4 linked regions of the Homo sapiens genome follow. The protein of the gene in region 2 purifies or fractionates together with the protein of the main gene of each other region. This does not show direct contact. Each region holds a gene or a part of one and is shown on either strand. Other genes may lie near its edges. The genes, in order: USP33, TLR2, BMPR1A and STAT5A.

The links.
Region 1: the proteins of TLR2 (region 2) and USP33 purify together in Homo sapiens (affinity purification with mass spectrometry; 2 studies listed by BioGRID and IntAct, with this or other methods). This does not show direct contact.
Region 3: the proteins of TLR2 (region 2) and BMPR1A purify together in Homo sapiens (affinity purification with mass spectrometry; 2 studies listed by BioGRID and IntAct, with this or other methods). This does not show direct contact.
Region 4: the proteins of TLR2 (region 2) and STAT5A purify together in Homo sapiens (affinity purification with mass spectrometry; 2 studies listed by BioGRID and IntAct, with this or other methods). This does not show direct contact.

Annotation. Positions count from the first base shown.
Region 1 is NC_000001.11:77,735,737-77,742,852, forward strand, and holds part of USP33 (ubiquitin carboxyl-terminal hydrolase 33), read right to left. Parts: intron 6,013-7,116; coding exon of another isoform or gene 5,962-6,012; coding exon 5,881-5,961; intron 5,694-5,880; coding exon 5,640-5,693; intron 5,204-5,639; coding exon 5,141-5,203; intron 3,682-5,140; coding exon 3,529-3,681; intron 423-3,528; coding exon 320-422; intron 1-319. UniProt on the Homo sapiens protein: Deubiquitinating enzyme involved in various processes such as centrosome duplication, cellular migration and beta-2 adrenergic receptor/ADRB2 recycling.
Region 2 is NC_000004.12:153,679,247-153,687,638, reverse strand, and holds the start of TLR2 (toll-like receptor 2 precursor), read right to left. Parts: upstream 3,360-8,392; 5' UTR 3,279-3,359; exon of another isoform or gene 1-3,278. UniProt on the Homo sapiens protein: Cooperates with LY96 to mediate the innate immune response to bacterial lipoproteins and other microbial cell wall components. Cooperates with TLR1 or TLR6 to mediate the innate immune response to bacterial lipoproteins or lipopeptides.
Region 3 is NC_000010.11:86,759,539-86,767,185, forward strand, and holds part of BMPR1A (bone morphogenetic protein receptor type-1A isoform 3 precursor), read left to right. Parts: intron 1-7,647. UniProt on the Homo sapiens protein: On ligand binding, forms a receptor complex consisting of two type II and two type I transmembrane serine/threonine kinases.
Region 4 is NC_000017.11:42,305,170-42,312,762, forward strand, and holds the end of STAT5A (signal transducer and activator of transcription 5A), read left to right. Parts: intron 1-440; coding exon 441-533; intron 534-1,071; coding exon 1,072-1,278; intron 1,279-2,232; coding exon 2,233-2,327; intron 2,328-2,423; coding exon 2,424-2,554; intron 2,555-3,008; coding exon 3,009-3,164; intron 3,165-3,877; coding exon 3,878-3,929; intron 3,930-4,207; coding exon 4,208-4,315; intron 4,316-5,337; coding exon 5,338-5,500; coding exon of another isoform or gene 5,501-5,561; 3' UTR 5,562-6,774; downstream 6,775-7,593. UniProt on the Homo sapiens protein: Carries out a dual function: signal transduction and activation of transcription. Mediates cellular responses to the cytokine KITLG/SCF and other growth factors. Mediates cellular responses to ERBB4.

The sequences.
Region 1 (7,116 bases), on a different chromosome or scaffold from region 2:
TTTATACCTAATACCTCCCCATCACTGACAATAGAAAAATGAGAAACACTGTTCAAACAGACCTCAAAAGGCAAGTTAAACAAAAAGATCATAAGGCTCAACTGCAAAAGAGTAAGTAGGATCCTACCTTTGGTAAACTGACACCAGAGAAACCAAAAGTTTGTTTTGCAAATAAAATTTTACTAGGCCAAATTTCAGAGTCCTTTTGTTTTAATTATCAAGCCCATTTTACCTCCACATTTTGAAACTTTTACATTATATGGTTTTCTAAAGAAATGGGCAGTGCCATACAAAGAAGCGTTACACAGGATTAATTTACCTCTGGCCCTAAGTTCATCTTCTTCATCCGCTTCTATATCCAGATCATCAAATACGGCAACCAGAGGAGTTTTTAATGTTGTATTACTGGGTATTTTAAAATCCTTGATAACAAAAAAAGATAGCACACTTGAACAAATCCTTAAATTTAAAAAAAGTTTTAATTGTAACTTATATAACATCTATACCATAAAAATTATTGAGATGTTATTTTAATAGTGGAACCATAAGAATTTGTGGTATTAGCAATTAAACTTACATTTATATTTTGAAGGAAATAAAACCCTAGGGTAATAGCATGTCAGTCCCGCTTTATTAACATATATATTTGAGTTAAAAAGGCACTTTTTACAACCGAATTTTCTGAATTAAAACTCCACAATAACTGCAATTATGTGACAGTAAACCATAGCTAAAAAGATCTCCGAAGGATACTATCCTACACTGTCTTCTCAGATCTCATTTTCAACAGGGAAAAAGGCAAAAGTTTTTCATCATAACACATTATCTATAGACTTCTACAATCTCTCCTGATACTTATTACTGTATTTACTTTGCACACTTTTTTTTTTCCGAAACAGAGTCTCACTCTGTTGCCAGGCTGGAGTGCAGTGGCACGATCTCAGCTCACTGCAACCTCCACCTCCTGGGTTCAAACGCTTCTCCTGCCTCAGACTCCCAAGCAGCTGGGACTATAGGTGCATGCCACAACGCCCAGCTAATTTTTGTATTTTTAGTAGAGAAGGGGTTTCACCATGTTGGCCTGAATGGTCTTGATCTCTTGACCTCATGATCCGCCCACCTCGGCCTCCCAAAATGCTGGGATTACAGGTGTGAGACACCACACCCGGCCTGCACACTTTTACGTATATTAAATAGTTCAAGCACTTACTTTAAATAATAATATTCTAATATTAATTTCCAACAATTGGCTTGACTCAGAGGTTGCAACTGATAACCTGTTAGCCAAATGCTAGTAAACACTTTAAAAAAAAAAACGAAAAAAACTTTGAGCTAAAGTTTAAAAAATTCGGAGACGACAAATAAAAATCAAAATTTGAAAGTTCTCTTGTAATATCAGAAGATTGAACTACAATGAACCAACATTCAGCAACACCCAAACAGAGAAGGAAACTGAATAGCAGAAAGAATTTAGCATGTACTCTGGTTCTCCAAGTTATTATAGCCTTACTTTACCTCTAAAATGCAGGCATATGCACTAATTCCCAACGATTTTACTTTCCTGACATCTGTAGAGACTGGACATTTGAGTGGACTTCATACTTTCATTTTGTTTTCATAAAGTAATTGCTTTTAAAAAGATACATGCTCACTACAAAATATCTAAATACACAGAAGTACAGAGGCTTAAATCACCTGAAATTTTACTATCTAGAAAAAATGTCTATTTGAAAAATCTTATTAATATTTGCATGGCCTCCAATATTTTACTATTTTGCAAATATCCTGTGGTAAACTGGATTTCAACAGCATATAAGTTTTGGACCACTAAAGAAATCTATCTGAACCACTGTTTTCTTCTGAATAATTTCTTCAACAATGGGATCATAAGGAAGTTGAATGAAATTAAGTTTATGCCTTTTATGTGTTAACATATTTACAAGTCATCAGAAAATTATTAACAAGCCATCAGGAAAGTATCAGTATACTTATTCTATCAGATTCAACATTTATTAAAGTTTGTAATCTTGATCTTTTCTGGCAGAAATGGCAACAGATAGCTTATTTAACTTACTTCTCTAGTAAGTGATGCTGATAGTTTTGCCTTTATATATTATTAGTTCCTTGTGTGATTAAACTTTAGTCATAACATTACACTTTTTTCTTTTTTAAAACTTTTTCTACTTATTACCATTCAGCTATCTTCAGTGGGACAAACTTTTGTTAATAATGTAAGAGGATTCAACGAAACGGCCATTTTCATACTATCTGGACTTTTGAAAAAGACTAAACATGTTTGTGAATGATAAATAGGTATAAGTGGGAGAAACAGTAATGGTTATAATTAACTAGAGCCATTCAACTGAGAAACTGAAAATGCAAGAAATTATTCTTTGACTAAAATCTAGCCATCTTTCATGTGTAAGGCAAGCAAATTTATTATCACAAATATCTACCATAAGAATGTGATACAAACATACAACAGAAAAACCTGACAGTTGGTATCAATGAACAAGTACAGAAATATGTGATTTCTATAACACACATGAGGAAAAAAACTTGCTGTTAATCAAATCTGATCAAATTCTGATCAACTGATGATCTGATTAAGAAGCCAACTATTCTAAGTTAATTTCCTTTTTCCTATTTTTCTATGACTTTAAGAATTCTGAAAATTAAGTGATAAATTCTGCAAGCAAACCCATGTGTTTTCTAAGTCTCTTGATCCAAAAGGAGAAAAATCTTTTTTTCTTTTTTTTTTTTAGATGGAGTCTCACTCTGTCACCTAGGCTGGAGTGCAGTGGCAAGGTCTCGGCTCACTGCCAGCTCTGCCTCCCAGGTTCACGCCATTCTCCTGCCTCAGCCTCCAAAGTAGCTGGGAATACAGGTGCCCGCCACCACACCCGGCTAATGTTTTGTATTTTTAGTAGAGACGGGGTGTCACCATGTTAGCCAGGATGGTCTCGATCTCCTGACCTCGTGATCCAGCCGCCTTGGCCTCCCAAAGCACTGGGATTACAGGCGTGAGCCACCGCACCCAGCCCAAAGGGAGAAAAATCTTTAACCCAAAGACTGATGCTAAGCTTTATTATATTCTACTTTGTTGTCAATAATAAGTAAAATGTTCACAGTAATACAAAGGGGATGGAGGGGAGGAGAGAACGGGGAAGAGAGCTGAATTAGTAACTGCCATATGCTATCAAAGAAGGCCCACCACCTTTCTTGAAATCAGACTTACCAGAAAAAGATAAAGACTACTTGAGTCATTTAAAAAAAAAAACTTCAAAAATTCATTAGGGCCTTTTCCATCTTCAAACAGGTGGGCTTCAATCTCACCCTAATCTAGCACTCTAAGCAACACAAGAAAGGGGAGTCTGAGTGCTTTATTTGAGAGAAAAAAGGCACATTACAGAAATTTTCAAAGTACAGGTTAGGCAGTATTCCTTTTGAAAATTTCAGCTACATGACAAATTCTGAAATTATTACCGGAATGTTTTACAGCTTAACTAAGTGGATCTAGATTATTACCTGGACACTGTTTTCTTGTATTTGGTGAGGTTGTCTTACATGAGGCAATGAAGGCTGAGTTCCTAATTTCCTATCCAAAAATACTTCTTTGCTGCAAGCATAACACCATACTCGAAGAGTGGTAAGGTTCACAGTTAGATAATGCTTTGTCTCCTATATAATTTCACAGTAGAGGGAAAAGAGGAACCAAAATTACATATACTTGAAAAGACTTCTTCAAAAGATAACAGAAGATAAACTGCTTGCCTTTGATGAGTAACAATATACTCAAAAGCTAATTTAGAACATGAAAAAAATTCTTTAGATAAACTTCTAAGGTATAATAAACAGTAACAACATCTAAGCCTACTCTAGAAATTACTCTGCCATTCTCCCCTCACTATTCATTATACAAAAAGATAAACGCAAGAGTGTAAGACCTTGCTTTGCAGTCTACAAATAAATATAACACAAGAAAATAATTAACAATAGCAAGTAACTATTCTAAGAAATCAGAATGGCAAAAGAACACAAATGACATGAGTCAAGGCATAAAACAGCTCTAGCAATACAGAATATATAATCTTGGAAAGATAAAAGTCTAGCCTTTCACAACCAGAGTTCTGCTACAGAATTAAGCCCTACAAAAAATGATCTGAGTGACTAATTTATCAATTCTCCCAATGGTGGTACACAGCAAATACCATCTTAGATGCACAGAAAGAGGCAAATGATATACAATGATGACTCAGAGCTTGGGTATTCAGGCTTAATTAATTCTATAGAGGAATCCTGGTTGAGAACAGTTGATGCTGTAGAGGTATCAATGTGCATCTTAAAACAAAGTCATTCGAGAAACTTTCCATTTAGAATGGGAGCTCTACATAACACTATAGAAGAGGCATGCCAGAGTTACATGGGAAGTACCAAACAACCAGAGCAAAGCAGAAAGGTGAGTCCAGTTAGGACTATGTGCAGGAAAAGGCAATATGACATGAGCTGAGACTTAAAGAAGTTAGCCAGGCCATGTCATAAACCTAAGCACCCACTCTCTCTTGGGCTTCAACCTCCTAATATGCCAGCTATCACCTTCAAATATCTGGATATACACTTTTTTTTTTTTTTTTGAGATGGAGTTTCGCTCTTGTTGCCCAGGCTGGAGTGCAATGGCACGATCTCGGCTCACTGCAACCTCCGCCTCCCAGGTTCAAACAATTCTCCTGCCTCAGCCTCCCGAGTAGCTGGGATTACAGGTGCCCACCACCACACCCAGCTAATTTTTTTGTACTTTTAATAGAGACAGGGTTTCGCCATGTTGGCCAGGCTGGTCTCGAACTCCTGACCTCAGGTGATCCACCTGCCTTGGCCTTCCAAAGTGCTGGGATTCAGGCGTGAGCCACCATGCCTGGCCGGATGTACACTTTTGAAATCAGTGCTTTCTTAATCACAACCTCATTCTAATGTTCATCCTCCTAGCAATTCCCTTCCCCATCCTTCACAGAGAATGTAAGTGAAGTTTTAACTTAGAGTGCAAATTTGAATTACAACTTGAATTAATAATGTTATACTGGCTTTCCCTTTCCTTCAGGCACTTTTTTTAACAAGTCTTCCATTAAATTTTTTATATACATACCTGAGAATGTATGGTGCTGTGATCTACTTGTGATTCACCACAGCCAACATATGAACATCTATTCTATAAATAATTATATAGGAAGAAAAATAAGGTACTTTATAATATACATGTAAATTTATAACAGCATTACAATTACATTTACAATTAAGTTTGGATTACCTGTTTTACATTCAATGAGTAAATGACTTTCCAGTCATTAAATTTAACCAAATGTTTCCAGGCACAAAATAAAACCAGGATATATTTCTAAGCTAAAAGCTATGTCATTTCTAATAAAAGGCAAGCATAAAATAGCTGAGTGATTTACTAAAAACTACAAAAGCACTACAGATTAAGATCTTTCCAAAGTTTAATTTTTGTTATTAATAATGACCTTTTAAAAGCAAGTTTAATTTACAAAAATCACTTTAAGTATCAAAAATTTTCTGGTTATGATTATTCAGATCCAAATTTATTATTATTATAGCAATCTTTTCAGGAAAAAACATATACACACCTCCAGACATGCCCAAAGATTTGGTCCTTGGACTTTACAATCCTGACAAGTACCCTATAAAAAGAAATTAAAAAGACAACATTGGTTATATTGACACAAACACATACAATTCACTAATGCACTAATGACATCATACATATTTTTAAAATACTGCTCATAGAGTATTACAGTAATTTATGAAAATTACACATTCAAGAGAAAAGTGAATAGTTTTTCAAGGAAGAAAAAACCTGTTTCTTACAAGGGATTTTTGTATCAAATCTTCTTTTGTTATTTCACCAACTGAATCCAAATGTGGACAATGATTTCGAAAAGCTGACATTTTGTTAGGAATTTTTTCCTGTTTCCCAAGACTTTCAAAATGAGGTAACACCTATAAGAAAAGTAACACACACAAAAAAATTAATAAATGCTTACAATGCCTGCAAAGATTCCAAAAAATAAAAAAATTAAAATGTTAACATATTAAAAATGATTAAAAGATAACATAAGAATGATATAAGTTTGCCCTGTAAAAAGAGTGTATTCTCAAACATAGATGAGTTTTCAGAATTGAAGTTAATCTGAACACTGGAAATTTCTCTACTACATAAACATTTTATTAAAATTGACATCTATAAACAAATGTAAGTTTGTTTCTCCATGACTTTTGCTGCTTTTCCCCTCTCATTTCACTTTTTATAGATAAATAAAAGGGGGGAATATTCAAGTTATTCAACTGTGAAGCACTTTTATCCTTTTAAAAAAAAAATTAATCCTTAGGCTGGACTAGGAGTTGAAAAAAAAAAACTTCAAGTAGAAAGCTTCATTTTTCTACTAATAGGACCCCCTACTGATGGCATAAATTAAATCATCTGGTATCCTGGCCTTATACCAGGATAAGCACTTTATATCAGGGTTTCTCGATCCCGGCACTATTGACACTTAGGGCCAGATAATTCTTCGCTGTGAGGGATTGTCCTGTGCACTGCAGGTTATTTGGCAACATTCCCACTTCTATCCACAAGAGACAGACAGACCATCCCTGCCACCACTCTGAACTCTGATGACCAGTGTCTCTAGACTGTTTTAAATTATACCCTCTGGGGGACAAAATCTCTCCAGGTTTGAGAACCCCATTTTCATGATCTTTACAACCCCTGAAATAGGCACCATTATTAGCTTCATTTGCACATAAGGCTAAGAGATGCAAACTTTACTGATCCACAGTGTTTGGTTCAAGTAAAGCGAGTGATTTCCAAAGGTCTCAAGTCTAATTTGGTATTCCTAGATCTTTTGGTTGTACCTTTTTAATAACAGGGCTTTTCATGCTCTTAATTCAACTTTGAGGTTTGAGAACACTTTCCCAAAAAAAGTTTAGAACTTGCTAGGATAGAATGAAACAGTTTAAAAGTTTGAACTTCAGAAACACTGTAAATTTAATTTCCTTTGTGGTTTATAAGTTATTCAATAAACCATGCAGGTCTATGTAATAGTT
Region 2 (8,392 bases):
TATGATTTGGTGGAAATTTAGCTATTAATTACAAAAAAAAAGCTCCTAAGTTAGGTTTCAGTTTGTTTATGTAGTATACTAAATTAGGTTGCAGTTTATTATGTAAGAACTCAAAGTGTAGAGACAGTCTCAGGATAATGGCCTCCTGCTTATGTCATTTAACAAAAGAGAGGTCCTCAATTTTATTCCTTAGATGAGTTATTTGTACCAGCTTTTATTGTCTTGCCAGAGGTTCATCATTTTTATTAGCATTTTCAAAAAATCAACTTCTGACTTGATAGATCCCCTATTTTCTAGCACATTAATTTCTATTCTTATATTATTATTTCCCCTGTTCTGATTTCTCTGGATTTATTTTACTATTCCTTTTCCAGTTTTTAAGGTATTTGCTTGCTCATTCATTTTTCGTCACTCTTCATTTCTAATATATGCACTTAAGGTTGTAAGTTTCCTTTAAGCAACAGTTTAGGTGCATCTGACAAGTTTTTATATGTAATTTTTTTCATAAGTCATTAAAAATATTTTCTGATTTTCATTCTGATTATTTTTTGACCCATGGGTTATTTAGAAATTTACTAATTTCCAAATATATGAGAATTTTCTATAAGTTTTTCTGTTCTTTTCTACTTTAATTGCATTATGGTCAGAAGACATATTCTGTATGATTTAAATTCTTTAAAATGTATTGCAATTTACTCTATGAGCCAGTATATGGTCAGATTTTAAGTATGCTCTGTGATTTCAGCTGCTGTTGGAAGTAGTATAGGTTCCTTATGTGAACTACATTGTGTTCGCATTTTCTTTATCCTTATTGATTTTTGTCTGGTTTTTCTATCAGTTACTGAGAGATGTATGATAAAATCTCCCACTATGATTGTGGATTTTTCTATGAATTTTCTATTTTTCTAGTTCAGTCAATTTGGCTCTATTCTTTTTCTATTTTCTAGTTTCTTAATGTTGTTATAAGTACTTATAAATTCAAAATTTTTATTTCTTCTCAGTGAAACCTTTAACTTAGTGAAACGTTTATCTACAGTTATGATTTTTTTCCTAATTCTATTTTGTCTAATAGTAATATTGCCACAACAGCTTTCTTTTGATAAATGGTTGCATCTGTTCACTTTATACCTTTTAGTATCCATAAATGTGTCTCTTGTAAACAGCATATGATTGTTGGGTTGTTTTGAAGTCTAGTCTGATAATATTAGTCTGATTATCATAAAATTTAGTCTATCTCATTTAGTTACTGATGTATTAAATTGCATTTAATATAATTACTGACATTTTGGGCTTTAAAGTAATTGAACTATTGCTATGGTTTGAATGTGTGCCCCAAAGCTCATGTATTGGAAATTTCATCTTCAATGCAACAGTGTTGAGAGGTGGAATTTTTGTTTGTTTGTTTGTTTTGAGACAGAGTCTCGCTCTGTCACCCAGGCTGGAGTGCAGTGGCATGATCTCGGCTCACTGCGAGCTGAGAGGTGGAACCTTTTAAGAGGTGATTAGGTTATGAAGGCTGTACCCTCATAAATGGATTAATGTTATCACCAAGGGAGCAGTTTATTGTGAGAATGAGTTTGTTATAAAAGTAAGTTCTGTCCTCTCTTGCTCTCTCTCACCATGTGATGCTTTCCATCATGTTATAATGTAGCCAGATGACCCTCACCAGATGCAGCCCTTCAATCTTGGACTTCCCAGACTCCAGAACCATGAATGGATAAATTTCTGTTCTTTGTAAATTACCCAGTCTCAGGTATTTTGTTACAGCAGCACCCAAGGGACTGTGACAACTATGTACTTTATTCTTGTCCCATTTGTTTTATGTTCTATTGTCTCTCTTTTCTTGCCCTCTTTTAAATTTGGGGGTATTCCATTAGATTTTTTCTACTCTGTTAGTTTATCAATAAAACTGTACCCCAAAAAATTAACTGATAGCTTAGAAACCCCCAAAACATGCTGTCAACTTCTGGCAGTTTTTGTAAATGTAAAATGGGTACATTATAAAGAACTTAAAGATGTTCCTTGCTTAGAACAGGAAGAACCTTTAAAATATTGGTGAATAAATCATTTTCCAATAGTTTCTGCTCTTGCTTTTGTTGTTTGTTTGTTTTGTTTTGTGTTTTGTTGTTTGTTTGGTCTGTCCCTTCAAGTCAGGCCACCATAGCTACAGTTGCTCTTTGGTAAAAATCTTAATAACAGAGTCAAAAGATTAAAGTCATCTCAGCAAACTTTGAGTTGTCTACACCCAGATTACTCTCCTTCTCTTTCTCCGCCCCCACCCACCACTTCCAATCACCTCTTTCTCTCTCTTTCTCTCTCTTTCAAACAGGAAAAAGACTTTCCTGGCTTGCATTTAAGTTCTAAACACAAGTTCATATTTATAGAAGTTGAAGAAGTTGTAAAGGGCACTTCAAAGCATTCTTACTTGAAGGACTCGACTTTGCTTAAACGCTGTAAGTTGTTTTCTAATCAGAGACCTAACTCACACATCCTAAGAATGAAGGAACGCAGAGGTGGGGCGAAGCCTGCCAGGGAGCAGAGGTCAGACTTGGGTTAGGGAGCCAGGGTCCTGGACAGACCCAGAGCACGGAACCTTTCCCACCTCTGAGCCACGGTGACCAAAATCCAAGCTCCGTCCTAGCAGTAACCAGTGAGCGAGGACACACCCCCTGCCAGACGCTAGCTCGTTGAAAGCCTTTACCCAATCTTTGTCATCCGAGCCAAGAGGGGCCAGGAGGCGGGGAGAGCGACCCTACCGGGAATCAGGGAAGCGGGAGGGCCAGGCCGTGAGGGAAGCGGGAGGGCCGGGCCGGGGCCACCGCCCCCCTCGGCCTCCCGAGGGAGGTGGCGGCCAGAGGCCCGGAGCCCCAGCGGAAGCTCTCCGCGGCAACCCCCCCGGGGCCTGCAAGGTTGGAAGGGCGCTCAGCCCAGCCGCAGCCCATTGGCACTGCACGCGCGGGGTCCCGACCTCGGGCTCTGCAGGACCCTCGGGCTCCCTTTCCGTGTAGCCCCTGCTTCTCCCGAGGGCCGACCTGAGCCGGCTTCGCTGGTGTCCACATTCCCGCGCTGGGCCGTGCAAAGAAGCACCGGCGTCCCGGGGGCCTGGTGCGCTTCCCGCTATCCCCGCCCGGACAGGAGCTAGGGGCCCAGGTGCAGCCGAACGGGAGCCCGGGTTCCCCAGAGCCCGTGACCGGGCTGCGGCTCCCCTCCGCCCCTGCCCGACCCGACCCCAGGAAGGGGTGCAGAGAGACCACACGAGTGGGGAGCGCACGACGTACCTGGGAGAACTCCGAGCAGTCACCTGAGAGAACGCCGAGCAGCCGCCTGGCTGCGCTTTCTCGCTGCCTCCGAGCCGGCCTGCCCGGGACTAGGAAGTAAGCAAAAGGGAAAGTCCGCGCGGCCGGGCGCCCCCTCCTTCTGGGGTGCGGGAACCGCCCCTTCCACGGGGCACGTGCGCCGCTGCGCAGCCGGAGGGAACTCTGGACCTCGCGCTGAGTTCCAGGCAGGTGGCCCCGAGCGAGCCCCCGCGGCCGTGCTTCCCAGCAGGCTCCCGCCCTTGACCGTGAGCTAGGCTGCGACAGGCCAGAGGCGGGTCCTGCCCCGACAGCTGCCCCGTGCAAGGCTGGGTCGAAGAAGAGAGCTGGGGGCTTGGCGGAGGTTCCAGGTCAGAGAAAAGCGAATCGAGACGCTAGAGGCGGCCTGCGTGGGATTGGCAACCACAGGGAAAGCTAAGTGCCCAACCAGTATTTTCTTGAAGCTTCGGGCATCCAGGACCTCACATCACCTGAAACACACCGTCTTTAAATTCCACTCCTGATGCTTTTCCATCCATGGAAGCCCGAACTCAGGCTCATGAATCGTGCTTCTCCTTTCCCCACTTTTCCACACTCTATTCACCTGCCAGTACATCTCCAGGGTCCGCTTCCACCCAAAAGTCTATGCCCTCCTGCATTAAAATAGGTTCACCCTCCAGACTAACACAGAACGATTTTGCCTAAGGGAGCAGATAAGGACAGCCCCGGATTTTTTTCCCCAATCCAGTGACAGTCCCTACTGGTGCACCATCTCTAGCACCTACATTCCATCCCACTTCTCACCATGCAAAGATTTGGGCTTCCCACTTCTGTCTACAGTTTGAAGCTAAGCCCTTCCCTTGCCCCTATTCCATCCCTACTTCCCAAAGTAATACCAAAAACAGTCATTGATCAATTTTCTTCATTGCCACAGAACCTAGCTGTCTCCACGGTTAGGAATATGTATAAGGGAAGAAAACAAGCTTTTAAAATTCAACTGCCTTAATGTTAATAATCTACCTTTTATGTTCATAATTACATTTGATTTTCACAAAGTGAGATATGAAGCAGAGCAAGCATCCTTGTTCCTCCCTTACACAAGAAAATGTCATGTGAATTGTATAACATATGACAGAACTGAGATTTGAAACCAGAATTTTACCTTAAATCCAGGGCTGTTTCTCCTACCCTGTTCCACATCCCTAATCCTCTCTGATGGTTGGAACATCAGGGAAACTTAATCAATAGACCTAAATATGAAATTGAGAGGTTTTTGTATACAGGTCACTATCTTACTATTTTTCTTTATCCTGACCATCAGGTTGTCCAGCTGGCTGAAAATGCTTTCTTATTAATTCCAAATCTCCAGCTCTCTACCTTGTGATTTCTGACAAAAGAAAACTTCCTTCAAATTATTTCTCCTGAAACTAAAAACTTGTTTTTTCTCTATTTCTCTTCCCTAGTTGAACTGCCTAAGGTGGATTTTGATGCTATTGCTCTATAATCCCAAAGTCAATTAGAATTGTCTGGCAAAGTCAGATAGAAATCATTTATTTAGCCACAAATCAGTGTCCTCTGCATATATTGAAGGTAGTTGTACACTGTCCACAAAGCTATTAGCACGTCCAATTCAGACACAGTCCTTATACTTGTTCAGTTCTTGACATTTTCTTTTTTTTTTTTTTTTTTTCTGAGATGGAGTCTCGTTTTGTCACCCAGGCTGGAGTGCAGTGGTGCAATCTCATCTCACTGCAGTCTCCACCTCCCAGATTCAAGCAATTCTCTGCCTCAGCCTCCCAAGTAGGTGGGATTACAGGTGCGTGCCACCACGCCTGGCTAATTTTTGTATTTTTGGTAGAGACAGGGTTTTGCTATGTTGACCAGGCTGGTCTTGAACTCCTGGCACCAAGTGATCCACCAGCCTAGGCCTCCCAAAGTGCTGGGATTACAGGTGTGAGCCACAGCACCCGGCCTAGTTCTTGACATTTTTGAAGCACCTTCACATCTAGAATTTCATCTGAATCTTACAATAACACATGCAATAAATAATTCTGATATTACTATTCCTTTGGTTAAAGTGATTAGGGAACTTGCCCAGAGTCGCATGGCTCACAGTTAACATGTGGCAAATCCCAGGTTAGACTCCAAGTCTCCTTCTGTATCTAGATATAAGACCTCCTATAACTCTCTACCAAAAAAAAGAAAAATGTTGATTAAAGTTAGAAAATCAACACGGCATATGAAATGTACTAATATTTGGGGAAAGGGTAACTTTCATTGTATATATTCATAGTTTTGAGCATCTAACTGAAATCCTAAGCTGTTATCTGAAAGTTATCCGAAAACACAAGGCCAGCGTGGTGGTTCACACCTGTAATCCCGGCACTTTGGGAGCCCAAGACAGGAGGATCTTGAGTCCAGGAGTTTGAGACCAGCCTGGGCAAAACAGGGAGACCCCCATCTCTACAAAAATTCAAAAATTAGCCAGGCATGATGGTTTGTAGCTGTAACCCCAGCTACTCAGGAGGCTGAGGTTGGAGGATCGTTTGAGTCCAGTGTGTTGAGGCTGGGAGATAAGAGTGAGACTCTGTTTCGAAAAAACAAAACAAAACACACAGTCTATGTCTTTTTCACATAAAGTATATTGTAATTGTCAGATGAAATAATAAGAAACTCATCCACCGAAAACCACTTAATGAAAATATGCCATAAATCCTGCATTATTTTACAGATCTTTATACATGAACATACATTCTTCAAAATTTTTTTACTCTGCACAGATGTCCGTATGTCCGTAATTTTTTAAGACATTTCAAAAATATTGCCTATGCAAAATAATAGTAGTAAACTTCTAAGTTAACATAGAACCAAGTTCTGAAAACAGAATATTTCATGTTGTATATATTTCCCTTTTAAAAACTAGGAGTTTTTTTTTTTTTTTTTTTTTGTGGGCTCCTGCGGGCCAGGGGACTGAGGCAAGCACCTTGGAGCTGAGCCATAGAAATCAGATCAAAAAGTGTGTTGGAATGAGTAGATGGACAGAATGAATTATGGGGAAGAGGGAACTGCACTCTTCAAAGGTCCCAGCCAGAAGTGGGGCTGGGGGCTGGGGGCAGGGGAAGGGAGCAGGAGGCATGATGACTCCCAAGCTCATTTTTCTTTTTTTTGATATGTTTTATTTATTATTATTATACTTTAAGTTCTAGGGTACATGTGCACAACGTGCAGGTTAGTTACATATGTATACATGTGCCATGTTGGTGTGCTGCACCCATTAACTCGTCATTCACATTAGGTATTTCTCCTAATGCTACCCCTCCCCCAGCCCCCCACCCCACGTTAGGCCCTGGTGTGTGATGTTCCCCACCCTGTGTCCAGGTGGGAATTGTTCAATTCCCACCTATGAGTGAGAACATGCAGTGTTTGGTTTTTTGTCCTTGTGATAGTTTGCTCATAATGATGGTTTCCAGCTTCATCCATGTCCCTACAAAGGACATGAACTCATCCTTTTTTATGGCTGCATAGTATTCCATGGTGTATATGTGCCACATTTTCTTAATCCAGTCTATCATTGATGGACGTTTGGGTTGGTTCCAAGTCTTTGTTATTGTGAATAGTACCGCAATAAACATACGTGTGCATGTGTCTTTATAGTAGCATGATTTATAATCCTTTGGGTATATACCCAGTAATGGGATGGCTGGGTCAAATGGTATTTCTAGTTCTAGATCCTTGAGGAATCACCACTGTCTTCCACAATGGTCGAACTAAAAACTAGGAGTTTTCTTTAACTAAAACCCTTCCCGCTGAGCTTCATTAGTGGCCACTCCAGGCAGGTCTAGGTGTTAATTATCTTCTGCAGCTTAACAGAAATGCTGGGGAATGATCCTAGCCATAGACTGAAGGCCTGTGTCCTCCTGAAATTCATCTGTTGAAATCCTAACCCCCAATGTGAGGTACTGGAGGTGGGCCCTTTGATGAGTGATTAGGTCATGGGGGCAGAAGCTTCATGAATGGGATTAGTTCCCTTCCAAAAGAAACTTCAGAGAGTTCCCTCACCCCTTCCACCACCAAGAACACAGTGAGAAGACAGCTATCTTTGAGCCTGGAAGAGTTCCTCACCAGATACCAAATCTGCCAACACCTTGATCTTGGACTTCCCAGCCTCTAGATCTGTGAGAAATGAATTTCTCTTATCTATAAACTACCCAGTCTATTGGCATTTTTGCTATAGCAGCCCAGATTGACTAAGGCAAATGGCTTCTTAATGGGCTCCAGAAGAATGAGAATGGCAGCATCACTGTTCTCATCAAAAAGACGGAAATGGGAGAAGTCCAGTTCCTTCTTGCACCACTCACTCTTCACAAAGTTTTCAGAAAGCACAAAGACAGTTTTGTGTCTCTTTTCAATGGAGTCAATGATATTGTCAATGATCCACTTGCCAGGAATGAAGTCCCACTTATGAAGACACAACTTGAAGAGGGGATTGAAGTTCTCCAGCTCCTGGACCATAAGGTTCTCCACCCAGTAGGCATCCTGCTCACTATAAGAAACAAATGCGTCATAGCAGATGTCCCTGCTGCAAGCTTTCCTGTGCTTCCTTTTGGCCTAGAGCCAGGCCCACATCATTTTCATGTACCACGGGCTGTGGAAACAGTGGCACAGAACCCCCATGGGCAGGATCAGCAGGAACAGGGCACAGCACATGCCAGACACCAGTGCCACCCTGTGGCACTCCGACACCAAAAGGCAGACGTCCTGAACCTGTTGGCCACACACGTGGGATGGAGAGTCACACAGGTAGTTTGCTGGCCAACCGATAAGAACTTTGGCCAGTGCTTGCTGCTCCTGAGTGAAGGAGAGGAATTCACAGGAGCAAATGAAGTTGTTGCCACCAGCTTCCAAAGTCTTCAGTGTGTGAAAAGAGTCAAGTTGCCCTTTAGAGAAAGTTTTCTTTTCCTGCTTCTTCTCAAAGGGGAAGAAAGCATCTGGTAGGGTCTTCAACACATATCTGAAAATGTAAAGTTATTTAAATTGCAGCTAAATAAAAGTTTACAAGGCTCACTTCTAGTAAGCCTCGTGTCTGGGAAACAATTGGT
Region 3 (7,647 bases), on a different chromosome or scaffold from region 2:
CCAAACCTTTTCCCATTTCATCATATCTTGTCTGTAGCCAACATCTGTTGATTCTGCTTTATGATATTGTAACTCTTCTGCTCTCTATTCTTGCTAACTGTGGGGCAATTCTGAATTCATATTGGTGTGAAGGTAGTAGTCAAATCATAAAACGAGTTGGGCAGCTTTCCTTCTTTTTCTCTTTTTCAGGATCATTTTAGACTGGGATTATCTGTTCCTTGAAAGTTTGGAAGACCTCCCCTATGTGACCATTTAGGCCTAGATCTTTTTTCTGGAGAGGACTTTGAGTAACACTTCAATTTCTTTAATAGCTGTTGGTTTGTGTCGATTTTCTGATTCTCATATGAATTTTAATGTTTCACATTTTTTTCAGGAATTTATTTTCAAATCTAGTGTTATTTGGCTTTCACGTAGTTCTCCCCCCACCACCCCGCGACTCCACCCCCACCCCCTAACTCTAAATCAAGTTCTCATCCCACCTGGACTAATGTTATGATTTTCTTGCCTTCACTTTTCTCCTTTATCTAATCTTATGTATTTCTGCCTAAATTAATCTGTAAGCCCAGTTCTTACCACTTCGCCACTCAGAAGTTTCCTAGGTCTTCCATTAAATGAAATATTTTCTGTGGTATTTGCCTCAGATTTACCTGTTTTTTTTTTTTTTTTTTTTTAATACCTTATTGTTTTTTCTTTCTTTCTTTCTTTCTTTCTTTTTTTTTTTTTTTTTTTTTTTGATACAGAGTCTCGCACTGTCGCCTGGGCTGGAGTGCAATGGCGTGAGCTCAGCTCATTGCAACCTCTGCCTCCTGGGTTCAAGGGATTCTCCTGCCTCAGCCTCCCAGGTAGCTGGGACCACGCCTGGCTAATTTTTGTATTTTTAGTAGAGGTGGGGTTTTGCCATGTTGGCCAGGCTGGTCTTAAACTCCTGACCTCAGTTGATCCGCTCGCCTCAGCCTCCCTGTGCTGGGGTTACACAGGTGAGGCACTGTGGCTGGCCTTTATAGCAGTTTTTATACAAATATTAGTTTCACTACTAGTTTGCAGGGTGGGTCTGTAACGGACTTTTCTTGCATATTAAAAGGAATAAATGGGGAAAGGCTCCTGTCTAGCCTAACAGTAGCTGTTGAACTGTCCTGATCTGACTATTGGATCTTAGGAGCAGCGAACCATGGAGAGAAAGGAAAATGGGTTTCCTATCACACTAAATTTTGAAGTAGGAACCATTTCTTTTCCTTTTCTACTTTCCCACCTTTTACTAGTTTTTAGGCTTTAGGATGTCTTTTTAACATCACAAGGTCCATATTGACCAAGTTGGACCAACTTTTTAACACAAGATTAAATGTTGACTTGCATTGAGTTATGTCCATTGTAAGATACACAGTAGTGTTACAGACCACTTAAAATATGCTTCTAGTTGTAAGAAGCCATTGATTGTAAGGTGCACCCCAATTCCGGAGATGCTAAAATATGAAAAATGGATGCATCTTAGAATTGATGAATAGTGTTTCTCTCCCTAATCAAAGCTCTTGGATGTGCCTGGAAATCCCCAGTAGTGTTTTTTGAAAAGAACACTAGTTAGGGGCATAGGGAGATCAGATGATCAGTAGACTCCATCTCAGGGTGGCCCCTGTGGTCCCTAAGCCAGTTCGTATGGGCAGTTTAATATATAACTAATGAGTAGACATTGAATAGATGAGTAAATTATCTTTGAGTATCTTTTATTTACTCTGATGTTGTAGACTTTGTTACTCTTTTATAGTTTTATATTTCTGATGAGCCTTCCTTTCTTATGGCACAGATTTGTTATACTGTTAAAGTCTGGAACAGTGGAGCTTGGCTCTTGATCCAGCTGTATATAATTGGCTGTTGACTTATGAAGGAGGACAGGAGTATGCTAGAGATAGGGATAAAATATTATAATCACATTTGCAGTTAGGGAGATTAGTTACATGTTGGAAAATCATTTTGAAGAAAGGAAGACTGAAGATGTTCAAACTTGTAGGAAGGTCTTTCTGGCCTAGCCCGGATTAAACCCATTTATGCCTAGTGTTCCACTATTGGAACGCTAAGCACGTGGGAGTTATTTATATCCTGCTCAAGGTCATCACCAAGGTCTGATTGCAAAAATTCAAAAAATTGCAGCCTCAGGCATAAATGGGTTAAGATGGTGGCAGATAATTAGGGCCTGGAATGGATAGGAGGCGATAACTAGCGTGGATGAGAGAAGGAATGGGATTGGCAAGAACAACTCCTGGATTTCTAGCTTGGAAAGCAGGGTAGATGTGGGTGACAGATATGAAAAATGAGGTGGGAGAGCTGGTTTGTAGAAGAAAATAGTATTGGATCACATGGAGTTTGAGATATCTGAAACAGCCAAGTAGGGATTTCCACTTGGCAGTTGTCTATATGGGTCTGGGGTTTGACAGAGGTTTGTGCTGGAGGTAGGCATTTGGGAGTCATTGCTGTATAGATTTTATATTCCAACAGTGGGAATTGGGTGGCTCTCTCAAGTGACTCTTGCTTACAAGTGACAGCCCTAACTCAAGTTAGCTTAAAGGAGGGAAAAGCTTCTCCCCACTAACCCCCATGATATTGAAAGGTCTAGAAATAGACATGGCTGGACCTAAGTGCTCAAATGATATAATTAATTGAGGTTGTCTTTTCTGTTCTTCACTTTTGTGGTCTCATTTCAGGCAGGTGCATATATCTGGCAGAGGAAGACATAGGTTATAGGTTATAGAATTACAGGTTATAGGTTATAGACCTCGTATCGAGAACTCCTTGTATGGTCTAGCAAAGAGCCTAAAACAGCATTGAGAATTTTTTTTCTTTCTTTTTGAGACGGAGTCTTGCTATGTTTCCCAGGCTGGAGTGCAGTGGTGCGATCTGGGCTCACTGCAACCTCCGCCTCCTGGGTTCAAGTGATTATCCTGGCTCAGCTTCCCGAGTAGCTGGGTTTAACAGGCGCCCGCCAATACGCCTGGCTCCTTTTTGTATTTTTAGTAGAGACAGGGTTTTGCCTCGTGGGCCAGGCTGGTCTCAACTCCTGACCTCAGGTGATCCTTCCGCCTTGGCCTCCCAAAGTTCTGGGATTACAGGTGTGAGCCACTGCGCCTGGCCAGTCTTGAGAAATTTCAACTTAAGGCCTGGGTAGAGAAGATAGACATTAAATAATTATCTAGTTGTAGTTATGTTAAGATCTACAAAAAGGAAGTCCAGGGAATGTTACAAGACTGATAAGGGAAGCTGGGCTGTTCAGGATGCGGGTACTTTGGAAGGCTTTCCTGAGAAAGGTAGCCCGCAGAGTGAGACCTTAGGCAAGAAAGGACAAGGAGACTGTTTTTGGAAGTATTCAGTAGTATTTATTTATTTATTTGAGACGGAGTCTCACTCTGTCGCCCAGGCTGGAGTGCAGTGGCGTGATCTTGGCTCACTGCAACCTCTACCTCCCGGGTTAAGCGATTCTCATGCCTCAGCCTCCCAAGTAGTTGGGGTCACAAGCGTGAGCCACCACGCCTGGCTAATTTTTGTATTTTTAGTAGAGACGGGGTTTCGCTGTGTTGGTCAGGCTGATCTCGAACTCCTGACCTCGTGATCCGCCCACCTCGGCCTCCCAAAGTGCTGGGATTACAGGCATGAGCCACTGCGCCCGGCCAGAAGTATTCGGTAAAGTGAGCAGTTTTTGCAGCTTTTTAAAAATTTTAAAGGCAATACATCTATTGTGGGTAATTTGGGAAGTATAAAAAGCCATAAAGAAGCAGCGGAATGATTAAGTTTCAGCTTCTAATTTTTTATAAATAATGTCTGATACTGGTTTTACTACTGAGTACCTATTCAATCACGGATGCCACACTAACCCAATCCGAATCTTCGTTTCTTTATCTTAAAAAATAGAAGGAACATGGTGAACTTTAAGATAATTTTTCTGCTTAAAAAAAGAAAAAGAAAGAAAATATCTTGACTTGCAGCACAGTTAGCTGCCGAAATTGAAGGTCATATAATGCTTTTGGTCCTAATGACATCACTGGACTTCTGACTTTTGGCTGAAGAATCACGCCAGCCTTGGCAGTCCTTGCAAGTACCAAAGGGAGTATGGCTTATGCCTGCGGTGCCCTTCCCGTATCCTGCTTTCTTACCTCCTTTTTTGAGCATTAATTTTTTTTTCTTTAGCCTTTGGGTAAAGTATCAAAATGTTGAGAAGATAGACTCTCAATTTTGAAGGTGAGAAATCTGTAGGAGACTTGGATAGTTGTTTTTTTTTTTTTTTTTTTGAGACGGAGTCTCGCTCTGTCGCCCAGGCTGGAGTGCAGTGGCGCATGTTGGCTCACTGCAAGCTCTGCCTCCCGGGTTCACGCCATTCTCCTGCCTCAGCCTCCTGAGTAGCTGGGACCACAGGAGCCCGCCACCACGCCTAGCTAATTTTTTCTATTTTTTAGTAGAGACAGGGTTTCACCGTGTTAGCCAGGATGGTCTCAATCTCCTGACCTCGTGATCCTCCCGCCTCAGCCTCCCAAAGTGCTGGGATTACAGGCGTGAGCCACCACATCTGGCTGACTTGGATAGTTTTGATACTGTTTTATGTATATTAAGATTTGTAGGTAGTTTTCTTACTAGTAATTAAAATGCTTTGTAATGTATTTCAAGAGTATAGGGTCTTGAGTGTTTTAAATTTGTATATAAGAATGTTTTAGATTCCTGGCTAAAAGAAGCTCTTGTTAGAAAATATTAAAGTAAAGGCTGTTAAATTTTGGTGAGGCTCTTAATGTCTGCATTTTTCAAGAATCATTTAAAAATGTCATGAAATAAAAATATTTCAGTGGTAACTGTTCAGAAGTATCTTAAATGTATACCAAATCAATGAAATATAATCGCTGGGTGACAGATTATTCTTCCTTCATTTTATAATCTTTTATTTAATAAAAATGTGGGGGAAAAATTGCATGTTGAAGTTGTACGTGTATATTTTAGCAAAAACTGTTAATCTTTCTGAAGTACTGCTTTGGTCATCATCCCTATTTGTTAAATATTTTTCCCTGTTTTCTTATTTGCTTACAATAGAAAATCCAGAATATCTTGGACTGGTCTCCTGCTCTGGCCAAGTCAGCCTTTTCTGCTTTGCTTCCTTTCCTACTATTTTATCAGCCTAAGTCACGTAAATATCCGATTCAGGTTTGGGTTCAGAATCCTTAGACCTCTACTGTCCACTACAATAGATAGCCACTACCACATGTGGCTGTTGAAGACTTGAACTGTGGCTAGTCTAAGTGTGAATTACGTACCAGATTTTGAAGATAGTACCAAAAGATGTAAAATATCTCATTATGCTTTTAAAATATTGGTTATATAGTGAGATGATACTGTTAGGGATACATTGGATTAAAGAAATATATTAAAACTGATTTTGGCCGGGCATGGTGGCTCATGCCTGTAATCCCAGCACTGTGGGAGGATTGCTTGAGCCCAGCAGCTTGAGACCAGCCTGGGTAACGTGGTGAGACCTTGTCTCAGTTAAAAAAACAAAACTGATTTCACAGGATTCTTTTTACTTTTTAAATGTGGCAACTAGAAAGTTTAAAATTACACGTCATATTGGACAGTACTGCCTTTGACTTTCCTTTCCCTGGTTCTTTGCCCATCAGAATGCTTTAAAATCTAGTATAAATCCTTGGCCAGGTGCTGTGGCTCACGCCTGTAATCCCAGCACTTTGGGAGGCCGAGGCGGGAGGATCACGAGGTCAGGAACTCGAGACCAGCCTGACCAACATGGTGAAACCCCATCTCCACTAAAAATACAAAAATTAGCCGGGTGTGGTGGCACGCCTGTAATCCCAGGTACTCAGGAGGCTAAGACAGGAGAATCACTTGAACCTGGGAGGTGGAGGTTGCAGTGAGCCGAGATTGCACCATTGCACTCCAGCCTGGGCGACAGAGTAAGACTCTGTCTCAAAAAAAAAAAAAAAAAAAAAAGAATATTCCTCTCTCTCCTATGAAGCCCTCCTCAGTGGTCCAAGCCTCATAGTTGGCTCTTTGCTGCATCATTATTTGAAGATAATCTTTTGGTATATTAGATTTCTTTACTACAAACCTTCTCAGAACTTTTAATATGCTAATACACATGGTGAAACTCTAGTATAGTTTCCCTAACTACGTATTACCATAGAACTGTGTGTTTTCTGTTAACAGAAGTTACACATATTTGTGGTTGAAATTTCAAACAATACAGAAATGAAGTAATGAAAGTCTTCTGTAATCATGCTTCACCTGTGCCCCAAGATTGCCACTGTTGAAAGTATAGAGCTAGAAAAAATTTTCTTTTCTGTTGCCTTCTTTCTTTTTTTCTGTCCCCATTTCCTAAAATGGGGTCATACGATACATCCTTATCTTTAAATTTATTTTCACTGAATATATAGGGGGATTCTTTTTATGTCAGTAAATTTCAATTTCCTCATTCTTTTTTTTTTTTTTGAGGGAAGGTCTTGTTCTGTTGCCCAGGCTGCAGTGGTGCTGTGGTGCAAACAGCTCACTGCAGCATCCAACTCCTGGGCTCAAGCAATCCTCCCATCTCAGCCTCCTGAATAGCTGGGACCAGAGGTGCATGCTACCATGCCCAGCTAATTAAAAAATTTTTGTGTGTGTGGAGGTGGGATCTCACCATGATGCCTAGGCTGGTCTCGAACTCCTGGGCTAAAGTGATCCTCCCACCTAGGCCTCCCAAAGTGCTGAGATTACAGGTGTGAGGTGTTGTGCGCAGCCTTAATCATCTCATTCTTTATAGTAGTTAAGCAGTTATTCCATTTTCTGATTATACCTTAATTTTACTTACCAGTTTCGTGTTAATGAATAATTAGATTATTTCCATTTTTTTCTTTTGCATTGCAAATATGCTGTGGTGTTTGTACATATCCTTTGAGACTGTTTTTATTTTATGAAATGAATTCTTAGAAATGCATTTACTATAAGAGAAGCCGTGCAGATTGGATGGAAAGTGCCAAGCCACCCTGCAAAATCTTCGTAACCATTCATATTCCAGCCAACAGTATTTGAATATGTTCTCTCCTCCCAACATAATCATATCAGTCTTTTTTTTTTTTTTTTGAGACGGAGTCTCGCTCTTTCACCCAGGCGGGAGTGCAGTGGCGCTATCTCTGCTCACAGCAAGCTCCGCCTCCTGGGTTCATGCCATTCTCCTGCCTCAGCCTCCCGAGTACAGGCGCCCGCCATCACACCTGGCTAATTTTTTTTTGTATTTTTAGTGGAGACGGGGTTTCACCGTGTTAGCCAGGATGGTTTTTTTTTTTTTTTTGGAGACCGAGTCTTGCTCTGCTGCCAGGCTGGAGTGCAGTGGTGCCATCCTGGCTCACTGCAGCCTCTGCCTCCCGGATTCAAGTGATTCTCCTGACTCAGCCTCCGGAGTAGCTCAGACAACAGGTGCACGTCACCATGTCCAGCTAATTTTTGTATTTTTAGTAGAGACAGGGTTTCACCATGTTGGTCAGGATGGTCTTGATCTCGTGACCTCGTGATCCGCCCGCCTTGGCCTCCCAAAGTGCTGGGATTACAGGCGTGAGGCACCACGCCCGGCCATATCAGTCTGTTTTTATCTTTGCCAGTTTGCCAGCTGAAAAAACATTCATGATATAAGGTTTC
Region 4 (7,593 bases), on a different chromosome or scaffold from region 2:
AGTCTGGGCGACCGAGCGAGACCCTGTCTCGAAGAAAATAAAGCAGATTGCGGCCATGGGTGGTGGGTCTTGCCTGTAATCCCAGCACTTTGGGAGGCCAAGGAGGGTGGATCACCTGAGGTCAGGGGTTCGAGATCAACCTGACCAACATGGAGAAACCCCGTCTCTACTAAAAATACAAAATTAGCCAGGTGTGGTGACACATGCCTGTAATCCCAGCTACTTGGGAAGCTGAGGCAGGAGAATCGCTTGAACCCGGGAGGCAGAGGTTGTGGTGAGCCGAGATTGCACCATTGCACTCCAGCCTGGGCAACAAGAGTGAAACTCCATATCAAAAAAAAAAATACATAAAAAAAAATAAAGCAGATTGGGCATGTTGCCTAAGCAGAGGGCACGTGGTGGTCACGCCCCATCAACTTGGGTTCCTTTGACTCCTGTAGACTCTGTCCCTACCTGTGGTTGTCATCGTCCACGGCAGCCAGGACCACAATGCCACGGCTACTGTGCTGTGGGACAATGCCTTTGCTGAGCCGGTGAGTCCCCGTGGGAGCCCTACCCCAGCACCCCCAGGCCCTAGGACTCACCTGGGGTCAGCCCCACCCCTTGGGCCCCTGCTGAGTGGTCCTTCCTCACCCCAGGGCCAGCCCAGAGGTGAGGTGAGGCCAGAAGGGCTGGGGTGCTGGGCGCCTGCCTTCCACCATGGCCTTGGCACTCTGGGTTCCAGGTTCCTGGACTGGGGTCTGTGAGGACTGTGAGCTTGGTCTTTGGATCCTGGTCTGGGATCCTCCTTTGGCAGATGGCTTGGGTCCTTGCTCTCTGTTTTCTGTTTCCTGGTCTGCATCTCTGTCCCTGCATGCCCCCACCCCCTGCATCGGTTTTCTTCCCTGCAGGCTGGGAAAAAAAGTGCAAGCTAGTATATAAAAGCCGCCGCATTTCCTGCCCTTGCATTTGTGTCACCTTTCTGGATCTGTCTCAGTCTCCTCTGTCTCTAGGTGTCTGTGTATCTTGTGTGTGTGTGAATATTTCCAACTCCCTCAATCTACCTTTTCCCCTCTCTTGTCTCCCTCTCAGGGCAGGGTGCCATTTGCCGTGCCTGACAAAGTGCTGTGGCCGCAGCTGTGTGAGGCGCTCAACATGAAATTCAAGGCCGAAGTGCAGAGCAACCGGGGCCTGACCAAGGAGAACCTCGTGTTCCTGGCGCAGAAACTGTTCAACAACAGCAGCAGCCACCTGGAGGACTACAGTGGCCTGTCCGTGTCCTGGTCCCAGTTCAACAGGGTGAGGGGCCCAGCTGCCAGCCGCCCACCAGGGCCCACCGGGGTCTGTTGCTCCTCCACCTCACAGACAGGTTACTGCCTGGGGCTAGCACCCCACTCTCCACCCCCAACCACTCTCTCCTACAACCAGGAGAGATGGGGGCCCCTAGCCTCAAGAAATGCAGGCAGGGGCTATAGGAGTTGTGCTTAGTTGTGAAGCCAAGAGCGAGATGACGGAGGGCCCAGGGCTGGGAGTCAGGATCCTTGGGTTCTGGGCCTAGATGTGTTTGCTAATTTTCTTTTTTTTTTTTAGAGACAGAATCTCATTCTGTCACCCAGGCTGGAGTGCAGTGGCGTGATTTCAGCTTACTGTAACCTCTGCCTCCCGGGTTCAAGTGATTCTCGTGCCTCAGCCTCCTGAGTAGCTGGAATTATAGGTGCCTGCCACCATGCTGGGCTAATTTTTGTATTTTTAGTAGAGATGGGGTTTCACCATGTTGGTCAGGCTGGTCTCGAACTCCTGACCTCAGGTGATCCGCCCACCTCGGCCTCCCAAAGTGCTGGGATTACAGGCGTGAGCCACCACGCCTGTGGCTCTGGCTCTCCTTCTGCCTCTCTCCTTGCTAATTTTTGAAGACCCATCCATTCTCTGTGCCTCAGTTTCCCCACCTGTAAAATGAGGGGATGACTTTGGAGGAATGACTTTGGAGGCCCCATCCAGCCTAGATTATTCTTTACACCTCTTACTCCCACCCTTGGGCTGGTCTTGGACCCCTGTGTCTTAGAAGTGAGTTTCCTCTCTGTTTTCCTAGGGTACAAGTTGGGGGCTGTGTCACTTTATGGTCTGCTGGAGTGTGGTGGCAAGCAGGGGTGAAGAACTGGGAGAAGACTGGGTGGGGGCAGGAGGGCCCTGACTTTCCTGGGCCACCTGTGACCTGGGGCACCAGCCCTGACTCGGGGGTTCCTGGGCCCTCAGGAGAACTTGCCGGGCTGGAACTACACCTTCTGGCAGTGGTTTGACGGGGTGATGGAGGTGTTGAAGAAGCACCACAAGCCCCACTGGAATGATGGGTAAGGAACGGGGGCTGCAGGGTCAGGGGCCAGCTGTGGGCGCAGAGAGACTGTGGCTGTGGCCCAGTGGTGACGCTCAATGCTCCGTGCACCCAGGGCCATCCTAGGTTTTGTGAATAAGCAACAGGCCCACGACCTGCTCATCAACAAGCCCGACGGGACCTTCTTGTTGCGCTTTAGTGACTCAGAAATCGGGGGCATCACCATCGCCTGGAAGTTTGACTCCCGTGAGTGCCCGTTTTGCCCACACTCCAGCCCCAAGGCCCGGTCTCTTGTTCCCTTGCCCCGCCACCCCACCCTCCATCGGGCCTGTGTCCTTAGAAGGTACCCAGCGGGAAGCTTAGTATGAGAGGGCTGTGGCTTGGAAATGTATTCTCTTTCTATTGTTTTCCATTTTGGAGAACCTGAAGTCCCCAGCCCCATAGACTCCAGGACGGCTGGGCGAGTCCTCCTGCAGTTTCACGCTCTCCCCTCTCTGCCACGACCCAGCCTTGTTGGTATCTGCTCATCTGGTTTGCTGAGTAGAACATCCCGCATCGGCTTTCTTCCCTACAGGCTGGGGCTGCAGCGCAAGCTACTATATAAAAGCCCAGATTTCTCTTGCAAGCCTGCCCTAAAGCCCCACAACCTTGGTCCTCCTGCTGCTGGTGGATTATGGGAATGAGGCTGTTCTTTTCACAGCGGAACGCAACCTGTGGAACCTGAAACCATTCACCACGCGGGATTTCTCCATCAGGTCCCTGGCTGACCGGCTGGGGGACCTGAGCTATCTCATCTATGTGTTTCCTGACCGCCCCAAGGATGAGGTCTTCTCCAAGTACTACACTCCTGTGCTGGGTGGGTACTGCCCCAGGACCCTGCCGGCTGACTCCCCCGGGCTCTTCCCCAGCCCATAGACAAAGCCTTGGGCTGCGCCGTGGGGACTTCCCCAGGAGGAGCCTAGGGGCCATGTCCCCTGTGGGTTTTGGCCCATGGGGTGGTGGAGAGGATTTCAGGGCTCACAAATGAGGAGAGGGAACGAGAAACCCGTCCCAGCTCTCTTCTCTGCAAAGTGAAAGCTGCATGGATTCTCACTTCTGCACCCTCGGAGGAAGGGGTGGCAGCACTGTAGGGAGTGGCCGGGATCATTCGAGCCCACAGATAGTGCTCCGCTCCCCACCTCACCAGCTGCTCTCCACACCCTGCTCACAAACCTTCCCCCGAGTGGAGTGCAGGCAGCAAAAGGGAGAAGTCTCTCTTCTTCCAGCTGCCCCAAATCCATTGGTTGGGTTTGCTTGTTGATTCTCATTCTTTGACAGGGGTGGGAGCAGGGAGAGGGAAATCAGATGGCCAGAAAAAGAACCAGAAGGAATGGGATTCAAGCCAGGGGTCTCAGTGACCCTCAGGCAGGATTCATCAGCTGGTGTTTATTGGGGGTCCTTGGGAAATCTCATCCCAGCTGAGAACACAAGGTGATGTGAGCAGGAGGGAGACTACATGGGGCGTGGGCTTCCACCCCACTTGGGAGTTCCCAGAGACTTTGGTTCTCACCACTGTTCTTCCCTTGACAGCTAAAGCTGTTGATGGATATGTGAAACCACAGATCAAGCAAGTGGTCCCTGAGTAAGTGTCCAGGTGGCTGTGGCTCTCCTTCTGCCTCTTTCCTCCTCCCCCAGACCCTGCCTCCCATCCTGATCCTGGGCCCAGCTTTCCGCTCCCCCAGGGAACCTGTCTCAGCCCTGGGGAGGGAGTCCCCTCTCCTGTAGCTGGAGCCCCAGGGCCGAGTGGGGCACTTTGTCCGTCTACACCCCGAGAAAGACAAACATGCCCCTCGGTCCCCTCCCCAAGTCAGCTGCCCCGGCCTCCCTGGTGGCTGAAGCTCTGTTCTCTTCCTTCTGCAGGTTTGTGAATGCATCTGCAGATGCTGGGGGCAGCAGCGCCACGTACATGGACCAGGCCCCCTCCCCAGCTGTGTGCCCCCAGGCTCCCTATAACATGTACCCACAGAAGTAGGTGGTGTTCTCATGGGGTCCGCAGGGGAAGAACTGGGGACTTGGCCCCAGGCTGGACTCCTGGAGGGCTGGCGGGCAAAGGATCCAGAGCTCTGGTTAGGCCCAAGTCCAGGAGGAGTGAGATCAGCCAGGAAAACAGAGCATTTTGAAGCTAGACATAGCAGGGTCAAGTCCTCACTCTAGTACTAACTGTGTGATCTTGGGAAAATGATTGAGCCTCTCTGATGCTCAAGTTTCCTTATGTGTAAAACGGAGGCAAGAATGCTTGCCTCATGAGAATGGGATGAGCATTAAACTGAGACAGTGTGGGTGAAGCATTTCCACAGGGAGGGGCTTGGAAGGGCTTGATACAGGGTAGCTATGAATGGGGTGGTTGTTCTTGAGTCTGGTGGGAACAAGGTAGATAATTAATTCCCTTCCTCACTGTGGATAGCCAGGGCTGGATGTCTGGGAGGTACCACCTTCCAGTGGGACCACTGAAGATCCCAGGTTCCAATCCGGACTCCACCACCTCCCAGCCAGGTGGCCCAGAGCAAGCTTCCTGATATGGCCTTGGTTTTCTCGTCTATAAAACGGGGTCAATACCCACTCTCCAGTTGGCTGTAAAAATTGGAGTCATGTGCTCAATAGGCTCAGCTGTTCTAGGTGCTCAGTGAAAAGATTCAGCTGTTCTAAGTGCTCAGTGAACGGGGCGGTGCCTACCATTGCAGCTGAGCATCATTGCAGGTGGGCAGAGCCCACTGTGTCAGCCACCTGGTTTTAAGATGAGGACACGGAGAGGGGAAATGAATTCCCTAAGATTATTCAGTGAGTTAGCAAGAGATGCGAATAGAGTGGGGGTCTGCAGAAGCCAGTGGGCTGACTGCTACCCAGCTTGGGGTGGGGTGGGGGCATCCAGCCAGAACTGGTCCTGTTCTCATGAGACGGGTTTGAGTGGAGAGCAGGCTGGAGGCTGTCCCCAGGGAGCTTGAGGCTGTGAGACATGCCAGCTCCCTCTGACATCCCCCTGTCTTTACCAGCCCTGACCATGTACTCGATCAGGATGGAGAATTCGACCTGGATGAGACCATGGATGTGGCCAGGCACGTGGAGGAACTCTTACGCCGACCAATGGACAGTCTTGACTCCCGCCTCTCGCCCCCTGCCGGTCTTTTCACCTCTGCCAGAGGCTCCCTCTCATGAATGTTTGAATCCCACGCTTCTCTTTGGAAACAATATGCAATGTGAAGCGGTCGTGTTGTGAGTTTAGTAAGGCTGTGTACACTGACACCTTTGCAGGCATGCATGTGCTTGTGTGTGTGTGTGTGTGTGTGTCCTTGTGCATGAGCTACGCCTGCCTCCCCTGTGCAGTCCTGGGATGTGGCTGCAGCAGCGGTGGCCTCTTTTCAGATCATGGCATCCAAGAGTGCGCCGAGTCTGTCTCTGTCATGGTAGAGACCGAGCCTCTGTCACTGCAGGCACTCAATGCAGCCAGACCTATTCCTCCTGGGCCCCTCATCTGCTCAGCAGCTATTTGAATGAGATGATTCAGAAGGGGAGGGGAGACAGGTAACGTCTGTAAGCTGAAGTTTCACTCCGGAGTGAGAAGCTTTGCCCTCCTAAGAGAGAGAGACAGAGAGACAGAGAGAGAGAAAGAGAGAGTGTGTGGGTCTATGTAAATGCATCTGTCCTCATGTGTTGATGTAACCGATTCATCTCTCAGAAGGGAGGCTGGGGTTCATTTTCGAGTAGTATTTTATACTTTAGTGAACGTGGACTCCAGACTCTCTGTGAACCCTATGAGAGCGCGTCTGGGCCCGGCCATGTCCTTAGCACAGGGGGGCCGCCGGTTTGAGTGAGGGTTTCTGAGCTGCTCTGAATTAGTCCTTGCTTGGCTGCTTGGCCTTGGGCTTCATTCAAGTCTATGATGCTGTTGCCCACGTTTCCCGGGATATATATTCTCTCCCCTCCGTTGGGCCCCAGCCTTCTTTGCTTGCCTCTCTGTTTGTAACCTTGTCGACAAAGAGGTAGAAAAGATTGGGTCTAGGATATGGTGGGTGGACAGGGGCCCCGGGACTTGGAGGGTTGGTCCTCTTGCCTCCTGGAAAAAACAAAAACAAAAAACTGCAGTGAAAGACAAGCTGCAAATCAGCCATGTGCTGCGTGCCTGTGGAATCTGGAGTGAGGGGTAAAAGCTGATCTGGTTTGACTCCGCTGGAGGTGGGGCCTGGAGCAGGCCTTGCGCTGTTGCGTAACTGGCTGTGTTCTGGTGAGGCCTTGCTCCCAACCCCACACGCTCCTCCCTCTGAGGCTGTAGGACTCGCAGTCAGGGGCAGCTGACCATGGAAGATTGAGAGCCCAAGGTTTAAACTTCTCTGAAGGGAGGTGGGGATGAGAAGAGGGGTTTTTTTGTACTTTGTACAAAGACCACACATTTGTGTAAACAGTGTTTTGGAATAAAATATTTTTTTCATAAATTTGCTGCTATGGCTCCTGGTTGGGGCGTTGGTGGCCTCCCTGGGTGATGGGAACCCCTGGAGCTGGTTGTTCTGTTCCTTCCCGCGTGCATGCCTGATGCTGTCATTTTTAGTCTTAAATTTTAACTCTGCCCGCTTTGCTGTGGTTTTCAGGGTGCTGGCCACCCCTGGAATACTGTCAATGCTTCTCAGAAGGGTAAGGAGCCAGTTTAGGGGGCACAGATTCCTTAAAAAGCAGGGGACTCGAGGTTTGGGGAAATGATGGAGATGGGCGCGGGTGGGCAGAACTCTGACCCAGGCTTCTCCTTAGCAGCTGCTGCTCCCAGCAGCCTCGAAGCTGGCGGCTGAGGGCCCGGCGCCAAGATGCTTCTCAACCCTCGGGGCCAGGGGCAGTCCCAGAGCCGCAACAACCGTCCCATCCTCCTCCTTCCCAGAGACCAGCAGGTGGCACCACGCGGCTGCGCTGTTTTCAGCTGGCTGCCGGCGACTGTGCGAGGCGGAGGTGCAGCAAGCGGGACCGGCTCGCCCCGGCTGGACCCCCGCACTGCCGGCTGCAGCCAGTCCCTGCTGTCGCTGGGGCCCTTGGGCTCAGGGACGCGCGCTCCCTGGGCGGGGCTGGGAGCCAGGTTTGCGGGCAGGTTCCTTCTGAGCTCAGAGCTCAAGCGAGGGAGAGGGGCGGCGCGTGGGCCCCAAGAGGGAGGTGCAGGGGGCCCAGAGCAGGGGGAAGGCGGGGGTGGGAGAAGAGAGGAGGGGAGGGGACGGGCAGGTGCCACCGCCCCAGGGGGCTAATCTGATCCATCTCTGCGAGGGAAGGTGCTC